2 separate regions of the Homo sapiens genome follow, and region 1 is linked to region 2. Evidence: fine-mapped expression QTL. A gene starts in region 2. The other region holds a variant in brackets. All regions are shown on one strand. Distances are from middle to middle. Region 1 overlaps UHRF1 (ubiquitin like with PHD and ring finger domains 1). Region 2 holds the start of ARRDC5 (arrestin domain containing 5).

What was found. PIP is the estimated chance that this variant, and not a neighbour inherited with it, causes the effect.
Region 1: its variant is the best candidate, but not a certain one, in a credible set for the expression of ARRDC5 in CD8 T cells (CEDAR, PIP 0.71).

The regions. Positions count from the first base shown.
Region 1 is chr19:4,926,553-4,931,552 of GRCh38, forward strand. It overlaps UHRF1 (ubiquitin like with PHD and ring finger domains 1), which reads left to right. Exons shown (of 17, transcript NM_001048201.3): 3 at 2,670-2,924; 4 at 4,164-4,324. Among named protein-coding and RNA genes, the nearest start is that of MIR4747, 3.6 kb to the right of the region's middle. RefSeq lists an enhancer at 4,029-4,528. The variant G/C (reference allele first, on the strand shown) is at 2,135.
Region 2 is chr19:4,899,682-4,905,201 of GRCh38, forward strand. ARRDC5 (arrestin domain containing 5) reads right to left here and starts at 3,215. Exons shown (of 3, transcript NM_001080523.3): 1 at 2,892-3,215. The coding sequence starts at 3,144. It also overlaps a transcript of UHRF1 not described here.

The DNA of each region.
Region 1 (5,000 bases), 27 kb after region 2:
GCTTGAGCCCCGGAGTTCAAAACCAGCTTGGGCAAAGCAGCAAGACCTCATCTCTAAAAAAAATTAGCTGGGCATGGGTGATGTGTGCCTGTGGTCCCAGCCACTCAGGAGCCTGAGGCAGGAGGATTACTTGAGCCCAAGGTTCGATGCTGCAGTGAGCTACGATTGCACCACTGCCCTCCATCCTTGGCAACAGAGTGAGATCCTTTCTAAAGGAAAAAAAAAAAAAAGTCCGGGTGCAGTGGCTCACGCCTGTAATCCCGGCACTTTGGAAGGTTGAGGTGGGCGGATCACGAGGTCAGGAGATCGAGACCATTCTGGCTAACATGGTGAAACCCCACCTCTACTAAAAATACAAAAATTAGCCGGGCTTGGTGGCGGGTGCCTGTAATCCCCGCTACTTGGGAGGCTGAGGCAGGAGAATGGCGAACCTGGGAGGCGGAGCTTGCAGTGAGCCAAGATCGTGCCACTGCACTCCAGCCTGGGCGACAGAGCAAGATTCCGCCTCAAAACAAAAAACAAAACAAAACAAAACAAAAAAAAACAGGCCGGGTACTGTGGTTCATGCTGTAATCCCAGCTCTTTGGGAGGCCGAGGTGGGTGGATCCCTTCAGCGTAGGAGTTCAAAACCAGCCTGGCCAACATGGCGAGACCCTGTCTCTACTAAAAATACAAAAATTAGCTGGGTGTGATGGCTCATGCCTATAGTCCCAAGCTACTCAGGAGGCTGAGGCACAAGAATCGCTTGAACCTGGGAGGTGGAGATTGCAGTGAGCTGAGATCACACCCCTACACTCCACCCTGGGCGACAGAGTGAGACTCCATCTCAAAAAAAAAAAAAAAAAAAAAAATTTTTTTCTGGAAAAGATGAGTCAGCCTTTATCAGGTTCTTAGGTTTATGGTGAACAAAGAAAGAAAGCCTGCAGAGAAGGGCCTTGGCCTTCACTGTGACCCCCATGCTGTTTGCATTTGAACAGCCGTCAGGCCTTGGATCCCCAAGGGGCGAAAGGAGGAAGAGCTGACATTCTATGTATGTCTCTCTCCTCCCTTTTCCTAAGGTCTCTCTCCTCCCTTTTCCTAAGGATGCTCCTGAACCAGGGCATTTCTGCCTCTAGGGGACACATGGTGATGTCTGGGGGACATCGGTTGTTGTCATGACTGGTGGAGGCCAGGGCCGCTGCAGTGCCTCTGCAGTGCCCAGCACGGCCCCACGGTCCAGTGCCCAGAGGGGGAGACCCAGCCCATCCCAGAGTGGTCAGCCCTAATGTCAGCCATGCTTAGGTCGAGAAACCTGTATTAATTACATGGAAACCAACCGAGTCCAATCCTGCTCGCACCAGGCACGGGATAAACTCCTGACGGGGCAGACGTGGAAACCAGGGGGACCCCCAGCTCCTGGGATTCACCTCCTCTCTCCCTTCCCACTCAGTGTGTGGATTTTAATGCGTGCAGCCTCCTGGGACCTCAGTAGGGCACAGCATCATGGGATAAGGAGTTTCTTGGGGGCCTGTGGAATCCTTCACCAGGGGGTCTCACCCAGGGTGACTTCACACCCCCCCACCCCATACCGTATGATGTCTGGGGACATTTGTGGTCGTCACAACTACGGGGTGCTCCTGGCATGGAGTAGGTGGAGGCCAGGGACGCTGCTCAGCACCCTGCAGTGCCCAGGATGGCTCCGCCCCAGAGAATGGTCCAGGACCTGGCCCCAATGTCTGCAGTGCCGGGGGAGAGGAACTTGTTGCCTTGGGGGCATCTAGATGGCAAATCATCAGGAGGGGGGGGTCCTAGATGGCAAACCACCGGGAGAGGGTCCTTGTTGGGTGTTGGTGGAGTGTGAAGGGGCAGCTTCTGACAAAATGCCTCGGCTTCTCCAGCCCCCAGATACAGCTCAGGTGATGAGCTCCTCCTTGCATACCTGCTGAGTCAGGTGACCCGAGGGGCAGGCTGTGGAGCCAGGCCCCAGGGGTTGAGCGCATCAGGATAAAAGCGCACAAAGGGCGGGTGGAGCTGAGGGTCAGAGGAGGTGCCCTGGCAGGCGAGATTGGCGCTGGAGCCTTACCCAGGAAGCTCATAGGAAGCTCATGGATGCTGGCATGTGCCTCTTGCTGTTCAGGTGGGACAGGGTCTCTCT[G/C]TCTCGACACTGGACAGTGGGACCGTCCTGGGCACTGCAGGGTGCCGAGCAGCGTTCCTGGCCTCCACCCACTCCATGCTAGGAGCTTCTCCCAGTGGCGACAACCACAAATGTCCCAGACGTGGCCCAGCGTCCCCCGGGGTCTGAATCATGTTTGGTTGAGAAGCAGTGACAGAGGTGACACATGTTCACTGTCACAAAAGCTGCCGTAAGCACGAAGTATTAGGAAAAACTCCCAAGACCCCCATGTGTGCGTGGTGCCCCGTGATGATGTTTTGTGCTTCTGGGTGCTTCCTGCATGCAGTGCCAAAAGCCCTCGCTAGAGGGGCCTGAGACCCTGAGGGAAGGGACTGGGGTGCCGCTTGTGAGCGGGACAGCCCCCTGGCATGGCCCAGGTATCATGGCTCTTTACTCTGATGCAGATTGCCCCCCCCCCACAAGGGCTGGGACACAGTGTTTGGTTCATCACTGGTGCCCACAGATGCCCACTTGGCATTTGGTGGCTAAACAGCGTCTGCCTCTGGTGTCCCTGCAGATGGAGGACGGCCATACCCTCTTCGACTACGAGGTCCGCCTGAATGACACCATCCAGCTCCTGGTCCGCCAGAGCCTCGTGCTCCCCCACAGCACCAAGGAGCGGGACTCCGAGCTCTCCGACACCGACTCCGGCTGCTGCCTGGGCCAGAGTGAGTCAGACAAGTCCTCCACCCACGGTGAGGCGGCCGCCGAGACTGACAGCAGGCCAGCCGATGAGGACATGTGGGATGAGACGGAATTGGGGCTGTACAAGGTGAGCCTCCCCTCCGCAGCTGCTCTGGGGTTGGACGTTCTCCCTGCCATTCTGGTCTTTGCATACCCAGGGCTCACAGGAGGGGCTTCCCACGCGCCTCTCTAGCTCTGGCTGGGCAGAAATGGCCAAGGGGTGGTTTCCTGCACGTTCCTTGAGGGGAACATGGTACCCTGGGATTCCTTTGTGGACCTCTAGAGCAGAGTCCTGTTCGGGGCCTGCAGGTGTCTTCTCCGTGAAGCTTGCAGTGGCTGTGACGTTTCTGAACTTGCTGCTACCATGTAAGATCAGGAAATGTCACAGAAAGATCTGGGTTTCCAGCTTTTTTATTTTTTTATTTTTTTTTTGGCAGGGTCTCACTTTGTTGCCCAGCCTGGGGTGCAGCCGTGTGATCACAGCTCACTGTAGCCTCGAACTCCTGGGCTCAAGTGATCCTCCCACCTCAGCCTCCTGAGTAGCTGATGTTATAGGCATGTGCCACCACGCCCAGCTAATTTTATTTTATTTTATTACTTTTTTAATACATGGTCTCATTCTGTCGCCCAGGCTGGAGTACAGTGGTGCCATCTCGGCTCATTGCAACCTCCAACTCCTGGGTTCAAGCAATTCTCGTGCCTCAGCCTCCTGAGTAGCTGGGATTACAGGCATGTGCCACCACACCTGGCTAATTTTTGTATTTTTTGTAGAGACGGGATTTCGCCATGTTGGCCAGGCTAGTCTTGAACTCCTGGCCTCAAGTGATCTTCCCGCCGCAGCCTCCCAAAGTGCTGGAATTATAGGTGTGAGCCACTGCACCCAGTCTGTTTTATTTTTTAGTAGACACAGCGTCTTACCATGTTGCCCAGGCTAGTCTTGAATTCCGGGGCTCAAGCGATCCACCTGCCTCGGCCTCCCAAAGTGCTGGTATTCCAGGCGTGAGCCACGACGCCCTGCCTGGATTTCCAGCTTCTCTTGACAAATGGGCAGCTCTGGTCTCTCAGGGCCTCCCAGCAGCTGTGGCTGAAGCAGAGCCGCAGGGGCCTTTGTTAAGACAGTCCATGCCCCCTGGCCCCGCATCCCCGTCACCCCTGCCGGGGCTGGTTTCTCATGGTCAGCGGTTCCCAGCCAGGGAGGAGAAACCTCGCTGTGGGCATTCGAGTTTGCGCCCTGGTTCCAGAGCATCCCAGTGTCCGAGAACCAAGGTGGTCTCCCGTCAGTTTTCCTCACCCCGTTGGGATGCCAGACTTCCCTCATTCCTCACAGGTCAATGAGTACGTCGATGCTCGGGACACGAACATGGGGGCGTGGTTTGAGGCGCAGGTGGTCAGGGTGACGCGGAAGGCCCCCTCCCGGGACGAGCCCTGCAGCTCCACGTCCAGGCCGGCGCTGGAGGAGGACGTCATTTACCACGTGAAATACGACGAGTGAGTCATGGCAGGTGGGCGGGCCTGGGTATTCAGGCTCTGTGACGCGCATCCTTGGCTGCGGGTGTTCAGGCCAGAGCTTGGCACTGTCTCGAGATGGTGATCAGGATCTGGGGCCCCATCCTCGAATTCCTAACAGCATACGAGGCTGCCCACTTGGGGACTAGCCTGGGGACCCGAAGCCGGCTGCCCCCTCCTGTGTCTCCGCGGAGGGTTCTGCTCGATCAGTGGCTGAAACTGCCACCCCATCAGTTTTTCTGTTTTATTCCATCTTCCGGGTTTGTCATCTCTCCCTCATCCCCACCCCTAACGTCAGTCTCCAGTCTTTGCACAAGTGTTTACTGGGCACTTCCTACCTGCCAAGTTCGGGGTCCACACACCAGTGGACACAGATGGTGGCTGCGTCTGTCCGTGCTGCCATCGTGAGATTTCACAGACGGTGTGGCTTAAACACGGACATTGGTTGACTTGCTCACTGCAACCTCTGCCTCCTGGATTCAAGCGATTCTCCTGCCTCAGCCTCCTGAGTAGCTGGGACTACAGGTGCCCGCCACCACACCCAGCTAATGTTTGTATTTTTATTTTATTTTATTTTTATTTTATTTTTTCGAGACAGAGTCTTACTCTGTCACTCAGGCTAGAGTGCAATGGCGTGGTCTCAGCTCACTGCAACCTC
Region 2 (5,520 bases):
CACTCTGGGAGGCCGAGGCGGGTGGATCATGAGGTCAGGAGATCGAGACCATCCTGGTTAACACGGTGAAACCCCGTCTCTACAAAAAAAAAAAAAAAAAAAAAAAAATTAGCCAGGCGTGGTGGCGGGCACCTGTAGTCCCAGCTACTCAGGAGGCTGAGGCAGGAGAATGGCGAGAACCCGGGAGGCGGAGCTTGCAGTGAGCCAAGATTGCACCACTGCACTCCACGCTGGGCGACAGAGGAGACTCCGTCTCCAAAAAAGTAAATAAATAAAAGAAAAGAAAACAACTAGCAACATTTTTTTTTTCTGAGACTGAATCTCACTCTGTTGCCCAGGCTGGAGTGCAGTGGTGCAATCTTGGCTCACTGCAACCTCCGTCTCCCTTGGCCTCCCAAAGTGCCGAGATTACAGGCATGAGCCACCGCGCCCGGCCAGCAGTCTTTTTTTTCTGTTTCTTTCTTTTTTTTTTTTTTTTTTTTTTGAGACGGAGTCTCGCTTTGTTGCCCAGGCTGGAGTGCAGTGGCGTGATCTCGGCTCACCGCAAGCTCCGCCTCCCGGGTTCACGCCATTCTTCTGCCTCAGCTTCTTGAGCAGCTGTATTTTTTGTATTTTTAGTAGAGACGGGGTTTCACCATGTTGGCCAGGCTGGTCTTGAACTCTTGTCCTCTGGTGATCTGCCCACCTTGGCCTCCCAAAGTGCTGGGATAACACGTGTGAGCCACTGTGCCTGGCCAGAAATAGCAATTTTTAAGCATTTACTGTATACCTGGCATTATTCTAAGCGCTTTATGTGCCATTAAATCATTAAGTCCTTAACACAATCTTATGAAATAGGACCTCTTCCTACTCCCATTTTATAGATTGGTTAACTGAGAGCCAGAGAGGTCACATAATTGCTCAGTATTAGTGTCTGGTAAGTTGACATTTGTCCCCAGGATATTTGCATGGCTGGAGTCCCTCCTATCACTCAGTTCTGTGCTTGGTTGTTCCCTCTTTGCAGAGTACTCCTCTGGTGGAACAGACCATCTCATCTAAATTTTTAAAGTCTAAAATGGCCAGGTGTGGTGGCTCATGCCTGTAATCCCAGCACTTTGGGAGGCCAAGGTGGGCGGATCACCTGAGGTCGGGAGTTCAAGACCAGCCTGACCAACATGGAGAAACTCCGTCTCTACTAAAAATACAAAATTAGCTGGGAGTGGTGGCACACGCCTGTAGTGCCAGCTACTCGGGAGGCTGAGGCGGGACAATCGGTTGAACCCAGGAGGTGGAGGTTGCAGTGAGCCAAGATTACGCCACTGCACTCCAGCCTGGGCAACGAGTGAGATTCAGTCTCAAAAAAAAAAAAAATTGCTAGTTCTTTTTTTAAGAGACAGTCGTTTGAACCCAGGAGGTTGCGGTGAGCCGAGATTGCGCCATTGCACTCCAGCCTGGGCAGCAAGAGCAAAACTCCGTCTCAAAAAAACGAAAACAAAAAATAAACAAAAATTAGCCAAGCATGGTGCCATGTGCCTGTGGTCTCAGCTACTCAGGAGGCTGAGGTGAGAGGATCGCTTATGCCAGAGAGGCTGGGGCTGCAGTGAGTTTTGATCACACCACTGGCCTCTAGCCTGGGCAACAGAGCGAGGCCCTGTCTCAAAAATAAATACATAAGCCAGGCCTGGTGGCTCATGCCTGTAATCCCAGTACTTTGGGAGGCCGAGGTGGGCGAATCACGAGGTCAGGAGTTCGAGACCAGCCTGGCCAACGTGGTGAAACCCTGCCTCTACTAAAAATACCAAAAATTGCTGGGCATGGTGGCGGGTGCCTGTAATCCCAGCCACTCAGGAGGCTGAGGCAGGAGAATCGTTTGAACCCGGGAGGCGGAGCTTGCAGCGAGCCGAGATGGTGCCACTTCACTCCAGCCTGGGAAGCAGGGCGAGACTGTGTCTCAAAAAATAGATAAATAAATAAATAAGATACAAATAAATAAATACAGAAATAAATTAAATTAAATTACACTTTGTTCAGCCAAGTGTTGGCCACGTGTTCTGCTTGACTGCTTAATACCTGGGAATATCCCCACAAACACATTTTGCAATGGACATATAATTTCCCCGACAACTCAGCAGACTCTCTGACATTTGTTCAGATTTCAGATCTGACCTGGTGGAACTGGGGACTAGTTATTCCTTCTCTGGAAGGTCTCCCTTGCTCTTCTACCTCCACTATCTTTCTTTTTTTGAGAGGGAATCTCGCTCCGTCACCCAGGCTGGCGTGCTGTGGTGCGATCTCAGCTTACTGGAACCTCCCCTTCACGAGTTCAAGTGATTCTCTTGCTTCAGCCTCCCAAGTAGCTGAGATTACAGGCACGTGCCAGCACGCCCAGCTAATTTTTTGGTATTTTTTGGTAGAGATGGGGTTTCGCTATATTGGCCAGGCTGGTCTCAAACTCCTGACCTCAAGTGATCCACCTGCCTCGGCCTCTCAAAGTGCTGGAATTACAGGTATGAACCACTGTGCCTGGCCCACCTCCACTGTCTCTCCCCATGAATGCAGGACTGCCTACTTTGTCTCCTGGGGTTTTGCTGTCAGAGTGAAACTTATCTGTAAAAGAATAAGACTTCTCAGAGGCCTCTCAAAGGCAGTTGTTGGATTGAGCATTTTCCAAGGAGACTACTTTGAACCTTCATTTTGAATATCGGGGTTCCGATCAGCTCCTTATGTCTTGTTATTTTTGCGTTTTGTGTATCTGATGGTCATTGTTCTTCATGGCCTCCCTCCTAGGGAGAAATCAGGCCACTCCCTATTTCTGATAGCCCTAGAGTTTTGTTGATTGACTCTCGGATGTGTTTATTTTCCAGACCCAGGTTCCTGTCATGGCTAGGGGTGGCTGTTGGCCTCGTCCTTACCCTCCACTGGGAATGTCTTTGTCTTATGCACGTAGTCTGCCTTGTTGTTGCAAATAACATTTCTGCTATAATCACAGGATGCCCCGGCTTCTTCACTCCATTCGACGTAACCCCTTCCCACGAGCTCCACCTTCACTATGGGGTCCACCAGGGTGCTGTTCAGGGTTAAGATCACCTGCCCTTTTATGCTGGAGCCAGCCAGGTAGATTCTATCCTCGGGCAGCACTAATTCGATCGACTTCACCACAGACATGGGGGGTTGGGGGGTAGAGAGACATTCCTCTCTGTCCCCCATGTCCCTGAAATTCCCGGTTCGTTGGCCCTAGTGAGGTAATCCATCTATGACATCACTCAGCTCAGAGTTCCGGGAAGTGGGGACCCCAGTGGCCAGGAGGGGAGGCAAAACTGTTGTTTAGGGTGGGTGGTTGATTGGGAAACCTGTAGTCCTCACTGGTTCTTTTTTTTTTTTTTTGAGATGGAGTCTTACCCTGTAGCCCAGGCTGGAGTGCAGGGGTGCCATCTTGGCTCACTGCAACCTCCGCCTCATGGGTTCAAGCAATTCTCCTGCCTCAGCCTCCTGAGTAGCTGGGACCACGGGTGCATGCCAGCATGCCCAGCTAATTTTTTGGTAGAGACAGAGTTTCACTGTGTTGGCCAGGATGGTCTCGATCTCCTGACCTCGTGATCCACCCACCTCAGCCTCCCAAAGTGCTGGGATTGCAGGCGTGAGCCACTGCACCTGGGCTTTTTCTTTTTTTGAGACAAAGTCTCATTCTGTCACCCAGGCTGGAGTGTAGTGGCGCGATCTCGGCTCACTGCCACATCTGCCTCCCGGGTTCAAGCAATTCTCCTGCTTCAGCCTCCTGAGTAGCTGGAATTACAGGCATGCACCATCACCATGCTTTGCTAATTTTTTTTTGGTATTTTTATTTATTTTATTTTTATTTTTTGTGATGGTCTCACTCTGTCAGCCAGACTGGAGTGCAATGGTGTGATCTCGGCTCACTGCAACCTCTGCCTCCTGGGTTCCAGCGATTCTCCCACCTCAGCCCCCCAAGTACCTGAGATTACAGGCAAGTGCCACTGCAACTAGCTAATTTTTGTATTTTTAGTAGAGACGGGGTTTCACCATGTTGGCCAGGCTGGTCTCGAACTTGTGGCCTCACATGATTCGCCTGCCTTGGCCTCCCAAAGTGCTGGGATTACAGTTGTGAGCCACTGTGCCCAGGTGCATACACACTCATTTTCATCTTAAAGACTCTACATTTATATTGGTCTATATTGGAAAAAACATAGAGATATGGCCAGGACCTGAAATCTGGTGCGCACTGAAGTTGATCAGGGCAGTGTGTGCTTAATCTGAACATCGACACCATCAGGAAGCAGCAACTCCCTGCATGATTGACATTTCTCTTTTTTTTTGAGGTGGAATCTCACTCTGTTGCCCAGGCTGGAGTGCAGTGGCGTGATCTCGGCTCACTGCAACCTCTGCCCCCTGGGTTCAAGCGATTCTCCTGCCTCAGCCTCCCAAGTAGCTGGGATTACGGGCATGGGGGTTACAGGCACCTGCCCCCGTGCCCGGCTAATTTTTGTTCTTTTTGTTTTTGTTTTTGTTTTTTTTTTGAGATTGGAGTCTCACTTTGTCACCCAGGCTGGAGTGCAGTGGTGCGATCTCGGCTCACTGCAAGCTCCGCCTCCCGTGTTCATGCCATTCTCCTGCCTCAGCTTCCCGAGTAGCTGGGACTACAGGCGTCCGCCACAAATGCCTGGCTAATTTTTTGTATTTTTAGTAGAGACGGGGTTTCATCATGTTAGCCAGGATGGTCTCAATCTCCTGACCTCGTGATCCGCCCACCTTGGCCTCCCAAAGTGCTGGGATTACAGGCGTGAGCCACCGCACCCAGCCAATTTTTGTTATTTTTAGTAGAGACAGGGTTTCACCATCTTGGCCAGGCTGATCTTGAACTCCTGACCTCATGATCCACCCGCCTCACTTGGCCTCCCAAAGTGCTGGGATTACAGGCATGAGCTACCACGCCTGGCTGACATTTCTCTTTATGCCTGCATCTCCCCCATTGGATGGGAAGTCCCTCCAGGGTGAGACCTTGTCTAAGTGAACTTTGTGCCCATCAATGTCTGCGTGACCCAGGCAGGATCTGGCTCAGCCAGGAGTGGGTGTGGGGGGTGGAATCAATAAAAGTTTGTTGAATGACTTAATGACCTCTGAGAATGTATCATTTTGCAAAAGGGAAACTGAAGCCCTTTGCACTCTAACAATTATTCCTGGCACCTGATTTGCACATGGTCTGGTGCCTGAGAGGGAGGGACATTGAATCATAGGAGGGGCTAGGAAGTACCCATTCTCTAGCCTGGCAGGCCTTATTTCTTGTCTTGGCTGTATCTTGCATTATTTTATGTGATAGCTTTTGTGGGCATTGGCCTCTTATTTCCCTAAGTCAAGCTCATCCAACCCCTGACCCACGGGCCACATTTGGCCCAGGATGGAATATGGCTCAACACAAATTCGTAAACTTTCTTTTTTTTTTTTTTTTTTTTTTTTTTGAGACAGAGTCTTGCTCAGTCGCCCAGGCTGGAGTGCAGTGGTGTGATCTCGGCTCACTGCAAGCTC